Homo sapiens: one gene and its partner. The protein of the gene in region 1 interacts with the protein of each later gene in a pairwise test. Each region holds a gene or a part of one and is shown on either strand. Other genes may lie near its edges.

Region 1 (3,908 bases):
GGGTCCCCCTGGAGAAATGCAGGGCAGAGAAACCCTAGAGACGCTGCAAGTTGGGGTCCCACTCCCCTGTGGGCACCCCAGGAGCTGGCCCAGCCTGAAGACGAGTAGAGGGGATGAGCTGTCCAGCTGCCACTCAGGGAGAGGTCTCCATGGACGGGGTCCCTGGACTCCCCGAGTGGAGTGCTCAGGGGAGCACAGCTTGGTGCAGGATGCCCTGCTGACCTGAACAGTGGATTCCTTCCTCCAGCCCTAGAGCCATTCCCTTCCAGCTCCTTCCTTACTGCAGACATTGCTTACAAGGGGAAGTGAGAGTCAGGAAACCCCAGCCTGTGTCCCAGCTCTGCCTCCTGCTGGCTGTGTATGTGGACAAGCCACTTATCCTCTGAAAAATGGGTGTGACTCATACCTGCTCCCCAGTTGTCATAAAAATTACCCACCCATGAGAAAGTGTTTTGTAAAAATGTGAAACACTAAGATAAGGCCTCTTTAATTATTGCTTCCACATAGAGTAATGACGGAAGAGCCACATTAGTATGTAATGGGGAAGGGTTAAACTAGTCAGTTTTTCAGATTTTTGGCCCAGTGCAGTGACTCATGCCTGCAATCCCAGCACTTTGGGAGGCTGAGGTGAGTGGTTCGTTTGAGCCCAGGAGTTCGAGACCAGCCTGGGACACATGGTGAGACCTCATCTCTACCAAAAAAAAAAAAAAAAAAAAAAAAAATAGCTGGGTGTGGTGGCATGCGTCTATTGTCCTAGCTACTCAGGAGGCTAGGTGAGGTGTGAGGATTGCTTAAGCCCAGGAGGTCTAGGCTGCAAGGCTGCAATGAGCCGTGATCACGTCACAGCACTCCAGCCTGAGCGGCAAAGCAACACCCTTTCTCAAAATTCCTGGAGGCTGTTGAGTGTACTTGTAGGTGTATACGTACATAATTCTTAGACTTTCTCCTTGACTGGAGGCACTGTCTGAATGTCTGCAGTGTAACTGTGCTTCTCTATACCAATGCCAGCCTATCGATACTCCTTTAGAGTAATAGATGACATCCAAGTCATTTATTTACATCCACACTGAAAAATAACTGGGAAAATTGGGGCTCTCAGTCTGCATCTTGAGCCCCAGCTGTATGTGATGTCACTGATTAATGCACTGAGTGGCTTAAATCAAATGCCTGCCCAGCAGGGGTATGGAGAGAGGCTTCATTAGTCAAAATGATGAAACCCAAGATCAAATATCAGTGGGAGAGACTGAAGATGCTGCCACCTGGGGAACAGCAAAATGGTGCACACCACAGGGAAGGAGAACCAAGAACCATAAGCCATCACGGGAGCCAATGGGGCTCCCCAAAGCCACAGACTGCTGAGCCCTGATACGGTTTGGATCTGTGTTCCCACCCAAATCTCATATGTGAAATTGTAGTCTCCAGTGTTGGAGGAGGTGCCTGGTGGGAGGTGATCAGATCATGGTGGGGGAGTTCTCATGAACGGTTTAGCACCATCTTCCCTGGCTACTGTACATAGTGAGCTCTCATGAGATCAGGTTGTTTAAATAGACTGTGGTACCTCCCCCGACTCCCTCTTGCTCCCCCTTTGGTGATCACTGAAAGTTTCTTGAGGCTTCTCCAGAAGCCAAGCAGAAGCCAACATCATGCTTCCCATATAGCCTGCAGAACTCGAGCCAATTAAACCTCATTTTTTTATAAATTACCCAGTCTCAGCTATTTCTTTATAGCAGTGCAAGAATGATCAAATATAGGCTCCTTCCAGACAGCCTCAGATAGAGCCCTCTGGTTGCGTCTAGAAATGACTCCTGACTTATTCTACGTTCAGTTCCAATGGAAATAATGTAAACCCTGCACAATACTGTGAAGGGCTGACATGGACACAGCTAGAGGCTTCTGCCCCTGGGACAGGATGGGCTGGCAGGGAAGAATGTACTGCACTTAGAGTTCACCAGTACAGCCATGACCCTGTGCCTCCCAAGCCCGCAAACCTGGTAGTGATGGGAGGGGAAGAAGAACCCACACGTGTATTCAGACACCTGCACCCACCGCCCACCCACTCGCTGCCCTCTTGGGGCAGCTAGTCTCCTGCAACCAACTCGAAGCTTGGTTTGGGCTTTGGCGAGGCTCTAAACGGCCTTCTAGGTGGTCCTGGCAGAGATCTGGAGGGCACAGAAGAGAGAGTAGAGCTTCTCTTTGGAAGCCAAGGTGAGGAGGGCTTCCAGCAACCTCATTTCATTACAAGTCTTTATGAAGGAGTGCTGTGTCCCACCAGGATGGCTGTGATCATTACTCGGCTATCCCGGAGTCCAGGAGCATGAGAAAAAGAAGTGTTACTGCATTAACAGACGTGGCCCACACAGGCTTTACGAATTCCCCTCTTCGTGTCCGCTGGGGCTGCTACCCGAGGGCCTTTCCTGGTCAGCAGGGACAGTGCACGCAGAGCGGTGTGCATGTGCACCAACCGCGGACTTACCTTGGAGCGAGGCTGGCGGACTTGGCTCCCATTGGTGAATCCAGTCCTTCCCCCGGCTTTGCCAATTTCTCTCGGTTCATTTGCTGTAGGATAGAGTTCAATTCACTAATAACGTTTGCCTTTGGGCCTGAGAGAATCGGGCTTTTGATCTCTGTGACGTCGCCCCACAACTTGGAGGTCCTTGGCTGGAGAACCTTGGCCATCCCAGGCTGGGCACTGCCCGGCGGGGGCGGGGGAGCGGGCGGGGGGATAACAAAGCTATCTACATCTTCTTCCACGAGCGCGTCTTGATAAAGTGCATTGCTTTTGTGAATGATGGGCTTCATTTTTGGCTTAGGAGGTACTGGGGGTTTGTCAACCATAAATGCTTGCCCATCTGCATAGACTGTGCAGGTGTCCACATTCTCTCCACCTTCGGAAGACAGGGTGGAGATGCTAGACACGGTGGAGATAGTGCTGGTCGTCTCGAGGTGGTGGTCGCTGCTACTCCGGCTGTCCACCTCCTCGATCCCAGAGTCGGCGACGGCGTCAAAGCTTTCAGGGGGTGGCAGGAATGAGGCAGGCAGACAGTTTGAAAGACTGGCTGGCTTCTTGCTGTCTGCAGAGTTGGTTGGTTGGCTGGAGTTCAACGAAGGGGACTGAGGGGTGTCGCTTTTCTTCTGCTTCACTAAGTCTGAGAGAGCCGGGACAGAAGCTGCCCGGTCATCGGGGATATCAAAACTATTTGCAAATTCCAGGGGAGGAGGCAATGGCTCTGTAAAAATAAAATCCTCATCCAAGTCCACGGATGCCAGAGGGGGAGGAGGGATGCGGAATGGCAAAATCACCGCCTCTTCCATGGAGCCCACCGCGACGATGGTTCTGCCGGGCACGGTGGTGGGCTCGGGGGCAGCGGAGATCTGTAAAGCACCTTCGGTTTCGGAAACACCTTCTGGCACCTCGGACGGCGAGCTGTCTGGCTTCATCTCCACCTCTGCCTTCTCGTCCTCTTCCTGCAGGGCGTTGTCCAGCTTAGTGGCGTCCACGGTGTGCACCATCAGCAGGCCAGCCGACTTCTGCTGGGACGTGTCCATGATGTCGATCAGCATGTTCTTCTTGTCATCGCCTTTCCGGTCTCGGCCCAGGTCGGTCTCGTACTTGTTCTCCGTCTCCTGCCGCCTCAGGGGTCCCCGGGTGTTCTGCCTGGTGACCGTAGGGAAGCCGGCATCCAGGCTGGGCCGCATTTTGGTATCAATGTAAAGAGGTTTGTTGAGGTCGGCCTTGGGGGCCTCCCCTTTGGGTCCCTGTTGAGACTCCTTCATGGCTCGGTCCCTTGCGGAGAGTGCCAGGGCCAGCGGGGAGCTGGGATCAAGCAGCCGCCCTGTGAGTGGGTGGACATAATTCCCGGGGCCGGCTGTGCCGCTGCTCGCGGAGGGCACTGCTGGGCTGCTCTCGG
Region 2 (3,908 bases), on another chromosome or scaffold:
CTCCAAGCTGCTCCTGTTAGAGCACCCCAGCAGGACGGGGCCCCGGTGGCCACAGGAGCAGCCCAGCGTCACCGCAGCCTCTGGGACGTCCTCTCCTGCCCTGCCTCTCTCTCCCTACTTCCTCTCTCTAGTTTCCTGGGATCGATCTCCCAAATGAACTACCTGCACCCAAATCCACACCTCAAAACCTGCTTGTGGGAGAACCCAGGGGGAGATTTAATAACGACGTCCTCAAAAAGTTCTTTTCTGATGTCACAAACTGTATTTGTTGCCCTTTTCACATTCACCAATAACACTCCATATGTTTCCTTCAGAGAATTATAACTTGTAATTGTCTGTTCCTTGGGTAACTTCTGGGCGGATCCCTCTCTAGACTGAAGGCTTCATGGGGCGGCAACCGTGGTTTTCTGTGCTGCTCACACGCTGAGAACACAGGAGAGGCCGTCAGTACATTTGTGTGATTTTCTTGTTGCGGTTGCATGAAATAATATATATATATATTTTTAAAAAACGTGAAGGGATGGGGACGAAATGCAGGGGAGGAAAGCAAAGGGAAAGTAAATTGTGAAATGAAAATAAATTGGCCTGGAATCTCTCCCTAGTTGAGGTTTGGGCGCTGAATGCACCTTTTTTTTTTTTTTTTTTGACAGTGGAGACCACTGATAGATTCGGGAAACATTTAGAAGAAATGGACAGCGGCCGGACTTCTTTCTCCCATTCACCTTTCTACCCCCTCGTCGTTTAGCACTCTGCCTTGAAAATAAACTGCAACTGATGAATATTTTGGTGATCAATTATACGGGGAATTCTTACAGAGCCTGTTTTTTGTTTAAAGATCTTGGAATTTCTGGAAAAGATTGGTTTGTCCATTCCAAATATTTTGGATGACCTGATTTCATTCTAACTCCCATCCGTCTTTCTATGCGGTTTGTTTTCGCATCTTTTACCTCATTTAAATGCCGTAGCCATGCAGGTGGAAAGCAGAAATCCATTTCTGCGTTTATGTTAAACTGGGGCTGAGAGACTTGCCCAGGGTCGGTGACCGCCCAGGGATCCCCATACCAGCGCGTCTAGCTCCCGCGTTCCGATCCCGGAAGGGAAAACCCATGATCCTGGCGAGGGTCCGTCCACACGTGGCCAGGGTGGCTGATCTTCCCGGCTGCTGTGGTTGTCAACACCACTTCTCCGGATCGATTTTCCCTTTTCCTCGGCTCTGTCGTCCATACGCCACTCACAGCAAACCCAGGCGGCGGGCCCCCTCCGAGGGCGCTCCTTGCGTCCGGACCCAGGTTCTCGGGGCGCCCCCCGGTGGGTCCCCGCGAAGCCGCCGCCGCACACCTTCCTCAGCGTAGCCCGCCAGTGGAAACCGGGGGAGGTTCTGCCTCCAGCACCCAAGCGGCGGCCGCACCTCGCAGTGAGACCCTCGCAAGCGCCCGCGCCTCCCTCGCCCCGCGTCCCCTCTGCCCCGCGAGCCCCCCTGGGCGCCGAGCCGACTCGAACCCGAGCGCGAGTCCCGCGCACAAACGCGCCGGCGCGTCTCTAACAGCGGTCCAGAAAGGCTGACCCTGCCCGGGGGCGACGGGTGTGACCGGGTCCCCCGCTAACTTTCGGGCGCGGTGAGCGTCGCCTGCGCGCGCCGCGGTGGAGGCCGCTGCTTTCCCGCCGGGAGCCCGGCACAGTCCCCGGGTGACCCGCGCGCCCCGCGCAACAGTTGGAGCCGGGCTGCCCGCGCGCTCCCCAAGCCGGGCCCTTCCCCAGATGCAGCCGCGCGCCGGCCGCCCCCCAGTGCGCCGGTGCCTCCCTGGGCGCCGAGTGCGCAGGCGCCGGCCGTGAAGACCGACCGTGCGCCGGGCTCGAGCGCGGTCTGAGCGCGCGGCGCCTGCGGCGGCGAACGGACGGACGGACCGCGGACGGACGTACTGACCCCAACCCGCGAGCCCCGGGAGCCGTCGGTCTGAGGAGGGGCCGCTTCGCCATGTCGCCCCGCACCTGCTGAGCCCGGAGCGTCCGAGGATGTCCGCGCTGAGGAAGGTGCGAGCCGCCGGGGGCTGCCGGGAGCCGGGCGCGGGGCTCCGAGAGCCGTCGAGGCGGGGAGGGCGCGGTGTGTCGGACCCGCGGGGACGCCCCGAGGGCGTCAGGGTTGGGGGCGGGGGCGAGCGGGGGTCGTGCCGCCCGCCGGGGCCGGAGCGCTGGGGACCCCAGGGACAGCCTGTGCTCGGGGGTCGCGCGTTGCGCTCCTCGCCGGGCTCCGCGCATCCCTGGCCGCGCTCGGGGGTGCCGGGACCCTGGGCTCCGGGGGTGCGGGAGCGCACGGGGCCGCGGAGGTGTGAAATTCTCCGCTCTGCCTGCCCGGGGTGGAGGGGGCAAAGCCTGGGGGGTGCCGGCGCGCCAGGGGCTACGCGCCTAGCTCCGGTGGGGCAGCTGCGAGCGAGTGGGGGCGGCGGGCAGCAGACTGCATCCCCCTCCCCCCAAGCCCGGGTGGAAACGCCGACGGGGACTGGGAATGAATGAAGGGTGCCGGGCTGGGCTGCGCGCACGGGGGCTCGCGGGGGCGGGGGCGACCAGGATGGGGCCCTTGTGCCGGGCAGCAGCGGCTGCCGAGACCAGGCGGAGTGGAGGGTGCGCGCAGCGAGGGGGTGGCCGCCGCCCGGCTCTCCAAGTGCGAGCGAGGAGCTCGGGGTCTTTTTTAGGGGTGGTTGCTAAGCGAGGCGCTACCCAGCGCAGGGTTTTGTAACTAAGCCTCCCCCGGCAGCGGCTGTTGCTGTCTCCGGCTCCTTCGCTAACGATTGCAGGAGAAATAATGAGGATGTAATTATTACAGCCCTGCGCGGAGGGCTGGGGGGCGGCGGACGCGGGCTCCTCTGCCTGCGCGCCCAGGTGGGGCTGGGCTGGGCTGGGCTGGGCTGGGCTGGACTGGACGCCTCTCCCCGCCCGGCCCTCCCTCAGCGCGCGGCGTGTGCGGTGCCCGAGGCTTCGGAGCAGGCTGGACCTGGGAACCCGGGGAGGGGCCTGGAGGAGAGATAGCTGGGCGAGGTGGGCGCCGGCGAGAAGGCGGAGCCCCCGGACAGCGTAGGTTCGCAGGTGGAGAGCGGACGCGGGGGCGAGGGTGCGCGGCGGGTCTGCGATGCGCGTCGGAAACTCGCGGCCCCCGGTCCCGGCCCTGCGCGCTTGGAGCCCGGGTCCTTCCAGCCCCTGCGCGACGCCGCCGCCGCCGCCGCCGGTGAATGGCGATCCCGGCCACGGCCTGGAATTGGAAATTCGTGACTTGTCGGCGGCCCCGGTCTTCTATCGATTAAAGATAAAGCGATCAGCAGTGAATTTATCCTTCGTGTGGATGAACTCGGCCAGCCCGGGCTGTGGGGGGTTTGGGAACTGTAAATATTCTCCAAAGCGCCGCCGCTTCTCCCGTCTTCCCGGACTCGAGGCTGGAGGCAGCTCCGGCGACGCGAAGGGGGGTACCCCCCGGAGAGGTCGGGCCTGGGGCGCGGCGGACAGAGACCCGGTCCCAGAGCCTGGCGGAGCCCGACAATCCGCCCTGTCAGGAGGAATCTCATCAACAGCCCGTGAATTAATTGTCCTTGCAGTTGGGAAATAACCCGGTACCTCGGCGTAGCCCGAGGGAGTCCAGGAGGCTCTCCAAGGAGCCTTCCCCCGGGTCGCGAAGCTGCGCTAAACCCCGGCCCCAGCGCACCTTGGAAGGCGCATTTTGGCCTGAGGTGAACGCACCTTACACCATTTTCATTTTACTTCCTTTTCTCTGAGAAAGGTAATAGATAACCAAGGCCAAAAATGGCGAAATGATGAAAAAATGGTAATTCTTGGCAGGTCAAGTTGTTACTCTGGGTTTAAAAAAATGTCATTAATCAGGATTTTCCAGTAGCCAAATTGTCTTGTGCCGGCAGCTGGGT

What was found.
Region 2: the proteins of SHANK2 (region 1) and DLGAP2 interact in a two-hybrid assay, tested with the Homo sapiens proteins (one study listed by BioGRID).

What each region holds. Positions count from the first base shown.
Region 1 is NC_000011.10:70,482,841-70,486,748, forward strand, and holds part of SHANK2 (SH3 and multiple ankyrin repeat domains protein 2), read right to left. Parts: coding exon 2,474-3,908; intron 1-2,473. UniProt on the Homo sapiens protein: Seems to be an adapter protein in the postsynaptic density (PSD) of excitatory synapses that interconnects receptors of the postsynaptic membrane including NMDA-type and metabotropic glutamate receptors, and the actin-based cytoskeleton.
Region 2 is NC_000008.11:735,795-739,702, forward strand, and holds the start of DLGAP2 (disks large-associated protein 2), read left to right. Parts: upstream 1-1,833; 5' UTR 1,834-2,013; coding exon 2,014-2,031; intron 2,032-2,753; exon of another isoform or gene 2,754-3,908.